Regions from separate parts of the Homo sapiens genome. Here region 2 is reported to be linked to region 1. Evidence: microRNA targets listed by miRTarBase, many of them from high-throughput screens and not tested one by one. Region 1 holds a microRNA gene; the other region holds the end of a gene's coding sequence.

The links. The annotated mature microRNA hsa-miR-129-2-3p reads AAGCCCUUACCCCAAAAAGCAU and lies in region 1 at 1,781-1,802, opposite strand. An mRNA with a match to its seed (bases 2 to 7 or 8) in the 3' UTR can be bound and repressed. Matches are read on the target gene's strand: a 7mer-m8 pairs with bases 2 to 8, a 7mer-A1 pairs with bases 2 to 7 and ends in A, and an 8mer does both.
Region 2: the mRNA of SNX9 is a reported target of hsa-miR-129-2-3p. Seed matches in the 3' UTR shown: 7mer-m8 at 2,152-2,158.

Annotation. Positions count from the first base shown.
Region 1 is chr11:43,578,732-43,583,251 of GRCh38, reverse strand. It overlaps MIR129-2 (microRNA 129-2), which reads right to left and starts at 1,858; the gene lies at 1,769-1,858. LOC124902807 (potassium/sodium hyperpolarization-activated cyclic nucleotide-gated channel 4-like) reads left to right here and starts at 1,817. Exons shown (of 3, transcript XM_047428006.1): 1 at 1,817-2,235; 2 at 3,242-3,878. The coding sequence starts at 1,817. It also overlaps a transcript of HSD17B12 not described here. RefSeq lists an enhancer at 1,774-2,573 and silencers at 3,634-3,893, 3,994-4,043.
Region 2 is chr6:157,942,084-157,946,083 of GRCh38, reverse strand. SNX9 (sorting nexin 9) reads right to left here. Exons shown (of 18, transcript NM_016224.5): 18 at 1,007-3,293. The coding sequence ends at 3,246. Among named protein-coding and RNA genes, the nearest start is that of SYNJ2, 38 kb to the left of the region's middle.

The sequences.
Region 1 (4,520 bases):
AGAAGTGAGGGGGCTAGGGTCGCAATAACCCTGAGCCGCCTGCGCTGCGGTGGCTCAACCTCTTCTGTGCAAGTTCACTTCTCTTGGGCCACCTCTCTCCCAAATCTGGTGAAGGTTCAGGCTTTGGGAGAGAGGAGGGCTTTCTGGCTGGGAAGAGGAGGGGTATGTAAGAAGCAAAAGACAAAAGAGGAGCTGAAGGGACACAGGGTGAAGCTATTATTAATCTAACGTGGTTCTTATGCCTCTCCCTCCGCAAAGCTATCGCTCCACAGACGGCCCCAGGTGAGAGGCAGGGAGGAAAATCCCCGGAGCTTTTGCTTTTTGCTCCATCTCCTTTGCAGATCTTAGGAACCTTTTTACTCTTTTAGAAAACGTATTCAGGGAGGGAAAATTTCCTTTATCTGGGGAGGAAAGCTCTGATTTAGCCTTAGAGCTTGGAGTGCTCGCCTTCCGTGCCTTCTCACAGTCTTAGCCATAAAAGATTGACTCTGTCCAGCACCCTCGGACTCTGCAGCCCTTTCCTAATTCTGGAGAGGGTAGAGTCCGGGTGTTCAACCAGCGGACAGGTTAATGACGGTGGGCGTTTAGTTTGTTGGAAGAACGGTGGTTGTGATACGGGGGAAATTCAGGCCCTCCCCGAAAACGTGAAGGTTCGCAGCCCTCGGGTCTTGAACTCCGGTGTCTCTAGACCCATCTTCTACCCATTTCTGTCCCTGTGGGCACTCATGTGTGTATGTGTGTCCTTCTGGCCCAGTCCCTAAGGGCAAGGGCGTCTAGCAGTGTTCCTAGCAGGCGAAGGGCGCGGGGAGCGTGGTGAAGGCCTGATTTGTGCCACTTGTGACCGAAGTGGTCAGGACTGCAATGAGTGGAGGGGGAGGAGGGGGACTCACAGACTCTCCCCTCTCCTGCAGCTTTGCCCCCCTCCCCAGGACCGGCGCCTGGAGAGGCCGGGATGGGGCTGCTGCTGCTGCTGCTGCTTCTGTTCCTGCTAAGCGTCTGAGTCGGGCACAACCGCATCTCTCCAAAGCTCCTTCTCTGCGGGGGCTTCCCCAGTTCTCGCCTGTTTTACCCCCTTCCGTGCTACTTAGTTTTGAAAAAGAGGAGATGTGGGAGACCCGAGGCTGCAAAACGCCCCAAATTAGGTTGGAAGCAGGCGCGGGAGGAAGAGACTCCGGGGATCGGGCGGTGCCTGGGTGTTTTCCCTCTTTTTCGGATCTACCCAATTCACCGCGGCTCGCCTCACCTCCGGGTCCCCCGCACCAGGACATAAGATACTAAGGGCCTCCAGCCCCTCCCTCAAGGGCTTCCCCACCCCCATATTGCAGAATCGGATCATTACGGTCAAAAATGACCACAAAATGTCCTAAACTGATTCATATTCCAGGTTCTGACTTGGCCTTAAGCTCAGATCCTTTTCTTTGCATTGAGTGAATGGGGTTATTCGTGGTGTGGGCGGGGGTTGGGGGGAAGACACAACTTCTGTAAACTTTTATTGCATTTTAGCTTCTTCTCACTTCTCCGAAAACACACACACCCCACCTGCTCCAGTTCCCCCTGTGATACAAAGTCTGTTAAAAAGTTGGGGGCGGGGGACTCGCTCGGAGGGAAGACAGGTGACCAAAGCCTCGGGCACCGCGGAAAGGACGGGGGAAAGGGCCGAATCTTCCGTGGAAAACGGGGAAAGGGCCGGGTAAGGCTCGGATGGAGCAGCTTCGGGAAGGTGCGGGCTTCGGCGATCGCTGGATGGCTGCCGTCTTCTCGACGAGTGCGCCCTCCGCAAATGCTTTTTGGGGTAAGGGCTTCCGGCTATTGAGTTATGTACAGCAAGCCCAGACCGCAAAAAGATTCGCGAAGGGCAGAATATGCCGGCTTCTTCGGTTCGCCGCCGCCTTCAGCCCAGGATGTCTCCGAACCCTGGAGCCGAACAGGCTGGGTCTCCCCAGCGCGTTCCATCGCGGCTCAGTCTCACCACTCCGCGCGCTGCCCGCCCCTCCGCGCCCCTGGACTCGTGTCTCCATTTCTCCAGACCGTCCGCGATCCCCCAACTCAGCCCCGAGAGAAGTGTGTGGAGGGCGAGAAGGGGACCGCAGAGGGGCACCCGGATCCCGGAGCCCAGCCTCCACCCCTTTCCTGTCGCCCCAGCACCCGGAGCCTCCCCGCCTGCCTGTCCTATCCCTCTATCTCCCTATCAGAGTTCCGCCAGCCCCGGCTGCAAGGTCGCGGATCTCTGAACAGGTACAGTTCGGATTCCCCCCGAATCCCCTCTTATCCCTCAGAGTCCCCCAGCCAAGGTTCCAGCCGTGACTACAGGCGCTGCGTAAAGAGAAAAACTCCCCCAGAGCACTAAATAAATACAGACGAGGCCGCCAGCTCATTGGTGCGGACTAAAATCGTCACCCACCAATCAGAAGAGAGCTCACATTTCCCCCTTTTTTTTCAGAAGGGGGAGGGAGAAAAAAATATTTCCATTTCTAATTATTCAACAAAACCTAGACTGGAACATGTTAAAATATTGTTGTTGCCAAAAAAAGCGGTTCAGGACCCCCTCCTCATTCCAGCCCAAGTGAGGGGGTAGCGCGATGTATTGGGAAAGAGAGGTTTAAGAGAGCGACCTCTCCCAACGGGACCCAAGCCAGAAGATCCAGACGAAAAATGACAAAGATGAACATAAAATAAACCCAAACTCCACACTAGTCATCCTATTTCTAGAAAATTGAGAATGTCTCAACACCCCCTTTCCCACCCAAAGTTCTGAATGCTCAACTAGGTGAAGCTCCTCCCTCCGCATCCTCCCCGAAACCGTCTCAGTATTGGGTGTTTAATGGCCCATTCGCCTCAGGTGCACTTTCAACTCTGCAGCCCACCCCCCCGCCCCCAACTCTCTACCCATTCTGCAGAATGCTAGGGGGAACAACAAGGGGCGAACCCGTCATTGACTGCCTGACCCCACAACGACGGGAGATTCCACCTTCTGCGGGAGGAAGAAAGGAGGGGAGGGAAGACTAGAGATGGGGAGAAAGGAGATCTCCTTCCCTCACTCTCCCTCCCTCCCTCTTCCTCCCTCCCTCTTCCTCCATCCCGCTCGGCCCCCTCCTCCATCCCATCCATCCAAACTTTGAGGGGTTGCCCTTCTTCGCAGTGCAGCGCCACCCTTCCCACATCCTCTCCTGCCCCTCCCCCCCCCCATTAGTACCTAAGCAGGGTGTGGGCTAAGGGACGTCCTGACTATCTCCCTCCCTAGCAGTATAGTCCCCCAGTGGGGGAAACCTCACCCAGGATGGGTTACTGCAAACATTGCAAGAACTTGGGGGGAAAGTTGCCATATTTGTTCTTTGGCACCCTGGAATCGACGTGCGGGCGGGCGCGCGCGCGCGCACACACACTCCCACCCTCGCCCAGCACGCCCGGAGAAAACGTCTCTCGACGGTGGAGGCACTGTCTTCAAGTCCCTGTCGACCCACCCCCTTCGCCCATCCATCACCCTCCTGCAGCTCCGCGACCCACTCACCCTCCCACGGCATCCCCTCGGCTCCGGGACTGACAGACGCAAGCACACACCCTCCGAGCGTCTGCGCGCCCGCCGCGCCAGAGGGGCTCCGCGGTCTGCGCCCGCCGCCGCCGCGGCGCGGGGCAACTGGGAAAAAAAAGTTCTGCTCAGACTACCCGTGAGCCGACCGACTACCAGTGAGCCGACCGACCACCAGCCGACCCGGGCGCCGACTCCCTGCTCCTTACCTCGGTCTGGGGGCCACGGGAGCGCGCCGGTCCCGTCCGCACTGCAGCCAGCTGGAAGCAGCCCCTCTCCTGCCGGCCCGCTCCCTCCGGCCCCTCCCCGCCCCCCACGGGTGTTTGCCCGGCGGCAAAGCGGGTTCTTCCAGGTAAGTATATAAGTTACTGTACTGTGTGGGAGGGTCACGATCTTGGTAATTGCGGCTTTCCGAGCTTAACCCCTGCGTTCCTGCCTTCCTCCAACTTGTTGAAGACTCGTCGCTTAGCGGGAGAGCGAGCAGGCGCGCCACTGCGAGCGCCGGCCGGGAGGGGGAGCGAGGTGCGCGGGGCAGAGAGGGGACAGCGAGACAGCAAGCGACGGAGTTCAAATGCCCCCCTGGCAGCGGTTTTCATTGGATAGGTCTTCCCCCCCACCCCCGTCCCCACTGATTTGGTGCCCCCCCGCCCCCCATCTCCCATGTAGGGGACGTCTCCAGGCGAAGTCACGATTCCTTCTCAGTTCGGAATGAACTGTGACTAGAGCCATGACGCAGCCAGCGCGCATTACTCACTTTTTGCAGTCACGACTTGGGAATCCGTGCTGGTTCCAACCAAAATTACACCGCTACCATTGAATTATTTAATAGGATCCAGTTCGGGGGGTAAACTTGTGCATTGTGCCAAGCAATGAGAAGGGGTGGGGAAGAATGGGGAGGTGGAAATGAGGCCATGGGGTGTCCCTCCGCCCCCTTCTTGACTCTTGGACACCTCCCCCCAACCACCGCTCCACGTGTTGCAAGTGCTTTATTGGC
Region 2 (4,000 bases), not on the chromosome of region 1:
AGGTTGGGAAAATTGAGTTACACACACACAGGAAAAACAGGGCCATTCTCACCCATCACTGTTCAGTTCTGCTCAGCCATCACACCTTTTTTACTTTGACTACTTTATAGACTGTGAGGTTGGGTGTGGTGGCTCATGTCTGTAATCCCAGCACTTTTGGAAGCTGAGGTGGGCAGATCACCTGAGGTCAGGAGTTCAAGACCAGCCTGGCCAACATGGTGAAACCCCGTCTCAACTAAAGATACAAAAAAAATTAGCCACGCATGGTGGTGTGCGCCATGGGAGGCTGAGGCAGGAGAATCCCTTAAACCAGGAGGCAGAGGTTGCAGTGAGCTGACATCATGCCACTGCACTCCAGCCTGGGCCACAGAGTGAGATTATCTCATAAATAAATAAACAAGACTGTGAGATTCTGGATTCCCAGTTGTTAGGCAGGGATCTATGGATTTAGTGAAGATGTAGACCAGTGGTGCCGGGAGAGGCTGCCATGCACAGCCTGTCAACGCTGCCCACCGGGGGCGGGGGGATGGGGGGTGCCCACAGACCATCTCCCTGGGACTGAAGCCCATGACAGAAGTAGATCATGCTGTCTCTTCTCTATGTGAGTAGACCCACGAGTCTCATGGCCCCTTCCAGTATCCATGGAACAGCAACAGACTAAATTACTTGCTTGTAAGTAGGGCAACATCAAACCCCAGACCCAGCAGGTACTTTTGTAAGAAAACATTTTTAAAATGACAGAATAAGAAAATGAATAAAGCTACCACAAAAGAAAGAAAGTGAATAAAGTCACCAATAAGAAAATGAATCAAGTTACGTTGTTCCACCCAGTGCCTCTGTGAGTCATCTTTCTTGGTGACCCCAACACCTACAAACCATGCAGTGGGTTGACATCCCGGGACTGCTGCTCCTGGTGGGAGGCAACTGACGTCACTTGCTTGACAACGAGACTGACCTTTTCTTCCACCACGCCTTCATCTCTCCTCTCCAAATACTGACTTTTTTTCCACTATATTTGTAAAAGTTATGTGATTGTATGACTACAGCTCTTCTGTGGTACCTACAGGTTGATACAAATCATTAAAAATCAAAACATCAACGTATCTAAGAACCAAATGGTGCATGTGACTCCCCGGAGAAGGATATATATGCCATGTTGCCACTTGAAGGAGAATCTTCCAGGCATCAAATCCCGTGGATTCTCTTATTTTCTTTCACATTCCCTCTGCTTTTCCTCACAGTCGGCTACCACGCTCTGAGGAGCCCGTGCCATCTCCATTTCCCCCATCCCTTTTTCACTTTGCCTCACACCAGTCAAATCCAAATATCCGAGAGTCAGACACTGGGAGACTGTCTGCTTCTTGGCAACTCCCAGGTGGTTATGATACGCTTCCCGGACCGCAACACTGACCTACGGAACTGAAATGATGAATTCATGTCAGAAGAAATAGGATTTGGGGAAGAATTCATTACCTGGACCATTTTCAGCAGCTGGAATAAAAAGTACTTAACAACAACAACAAAAATCACACACAAAGTCCAAAAAGTGTTTTGAAAAAGTGCTTTGAGAATTTACTGTACAGTTTTTTTAAACAATTTATTTATATGTTGGCTTCTACATGCTCTTACATTCGTGTAAAACATTTATACATATTCTTTACAATTTGTACATATATTAAATGGCTATAGCATAAACATTGTTCTATGGGATTTTATAGAAGAAAAATCAAGTGGGGAGAATTACTTATGAAACATTAACAAAAACCCGTGATATTGAAGAACAAGATGTTCTCATATTCATTTGATTTCATCTACTTATTTTTGGTGTCATTTTATTGATGCTGGCCCAGACTTTCCATTTCCCGTAATTATTAGGTCAGAAAAATGAAAGCAGCGGGAGGGAACGCGGTAAGGCACCTGTGGGAGACGGGAGCGCTCCTCCGCAGGGGTGAGACGGTGGCTGCCAGTGTTGAGTTCGAGCTGACGGTGTGCCAAGGTCCTGTTTTGCTTTATGCCGTTAAGTGAAGCGCTGGAAGTGCTGGTGCTCAGAAACACCCTGTGTGAAGTTTCGGATGTAGTCGGGAAGGGCGCTGGTCTGTTCTTTCTCTCCAACCTCAGAGCGCCGGGGACTCTGTACACTGCTGAGGCTGCAGCCCTTCTCAGTCCCTACACTTTTCCATCTAATGGGGAGCTAACCTGTGCTTTTTCTCTTTGCTGATGACACCAACTGGCCATGAACCCGCCACCCAAGCCAAGCAGTGTGCCGTGGCCACAGCAGCGCTTCTCATCACGGTGGATGAGGAGCCAAAGAATAAGAAAGGGCCAGAGACGCCGGGGTGCTGGGTGCCCTCCTTCTCCCAGGCCCTCCCGAACACAGGCCTCCGCACAGCCACTCACCCGTTGGACCAAAGCCACAAAATTCTCTACAAAGTCCCTCAATTCTTCTAATGTATTCTTCATGGCATAAAACATGCCTTAACCAAGATTAGGAAGGAAGTGCAAAGAGAGAAAGCACTGGTCCTCACATAAGAGCAGCACATCAGAAATGTCGCTGAGGACATGGGTGGCCAGGGGTATCTGCTCATCTGCCAGGCTGTGGGGTCCCCCTGGAGGGACATGGGATGGCCCACCTGCCACACACCACGATGGCACTAGCAGCCCCAGGGGCCCCCAGCGTCCTCCCTCTTGAAGTGTAAGCACTTGAGCTGTAACTGTGGCAGTGAAAGGCGTAACGACTTCCCTCAATGACAGGAGCCCCAGAGGACTGAAAGGAGTTATAAAAATATACAAACATAGATATTTTTTATTCTGGCATAGTTCATGTTTTTAAGAAAGTAATTAGTAATTAATTATCTGACACTGGGTAAGAACTGGAAGATTGTGGGAGACTTATAAATTATATAAGACTTATAATTTATAAGACATATAAATTATGACTCTATGTAAAATATCAGTGGGGAGAAACCCCTCATTTTCCATTGAAAATTCTGGTAACTTTTAAGTACTTTCCAAAAATAGAGACAATTTCCACTGGTTTAAATAATGGATGCGGAAATGAACAAAAGACCATCCCTAAATAACTGACGCATTTAGGGTGGCTAATAAAATAAATGCAGTTTTTTGCAACTCTTTCTTTTTGGTTTTGTTTCCTTTTTTTTCTGAATAATAGGGGAAAAAAAGTTTTGAATTGCATTGCCCCAAGTCAGGAGAAAGCACGCGGCATTCTCTTCAAGGCCCGTTCTGTCCTACATCACTGGAAAGCGGCTGAGGGCCTGCCTCAGCTTTTCTGCAATCTGACAAGAAAGCAAAACAAAACAACGTTGAGATATCACTCCCATTACGACCTCACAGTGTTCTTTATTCACAACTCCAACAAGTTAAACATGACACAAATTCCAATTCTTTAACTGGTCTTTTTGGCACCAGCCCTGCCCCGCGTTGCTGCTGGACAGACCTTAACCCCGAATGACACCGGCAGCGCTGGGGCCCGAGCTGGCCCTGGTGGTCCCTTCCCGCCGGGAGGCGTCTACACATGCTCCCCACCTCTGCCCTAGCGGCGCTTCCAGACCACCTGCTTTTCCTCAGATGAGCTGGGGGCTCAGGCCTTCATGTTTGCCTAGAGCCCCCTCTTTCCTGGAGGAGTATGAGCTTCCAGAATCCCCTGAAGGTTGTGTCGCCCTGGCCACACCCTGCTGTCACTGCTGAGTGTGCAGACAGCACGAGCCTGCCTGTGAAGCTAACGAGGCGCTGCAGTGGTCTCTGCGCCAGGGCCTCTTGCTCCTTGAAGGCACAGCTGTCTTATCCATCCCTGGATGCTAAACATCCAGCACGAGGGCTTGGTATATAAGAAACACTCAATATATGTCTGCTCCATGAACACATACACAAATTTTAGTAACTTAAGGGTTACTTTGCCATAAAACTTAGATCTAAAACCTAACAATGTTATATCAGCTACTTAGGTTTATGCAAAGACAGTGATGAAATACATGGTTTTCTA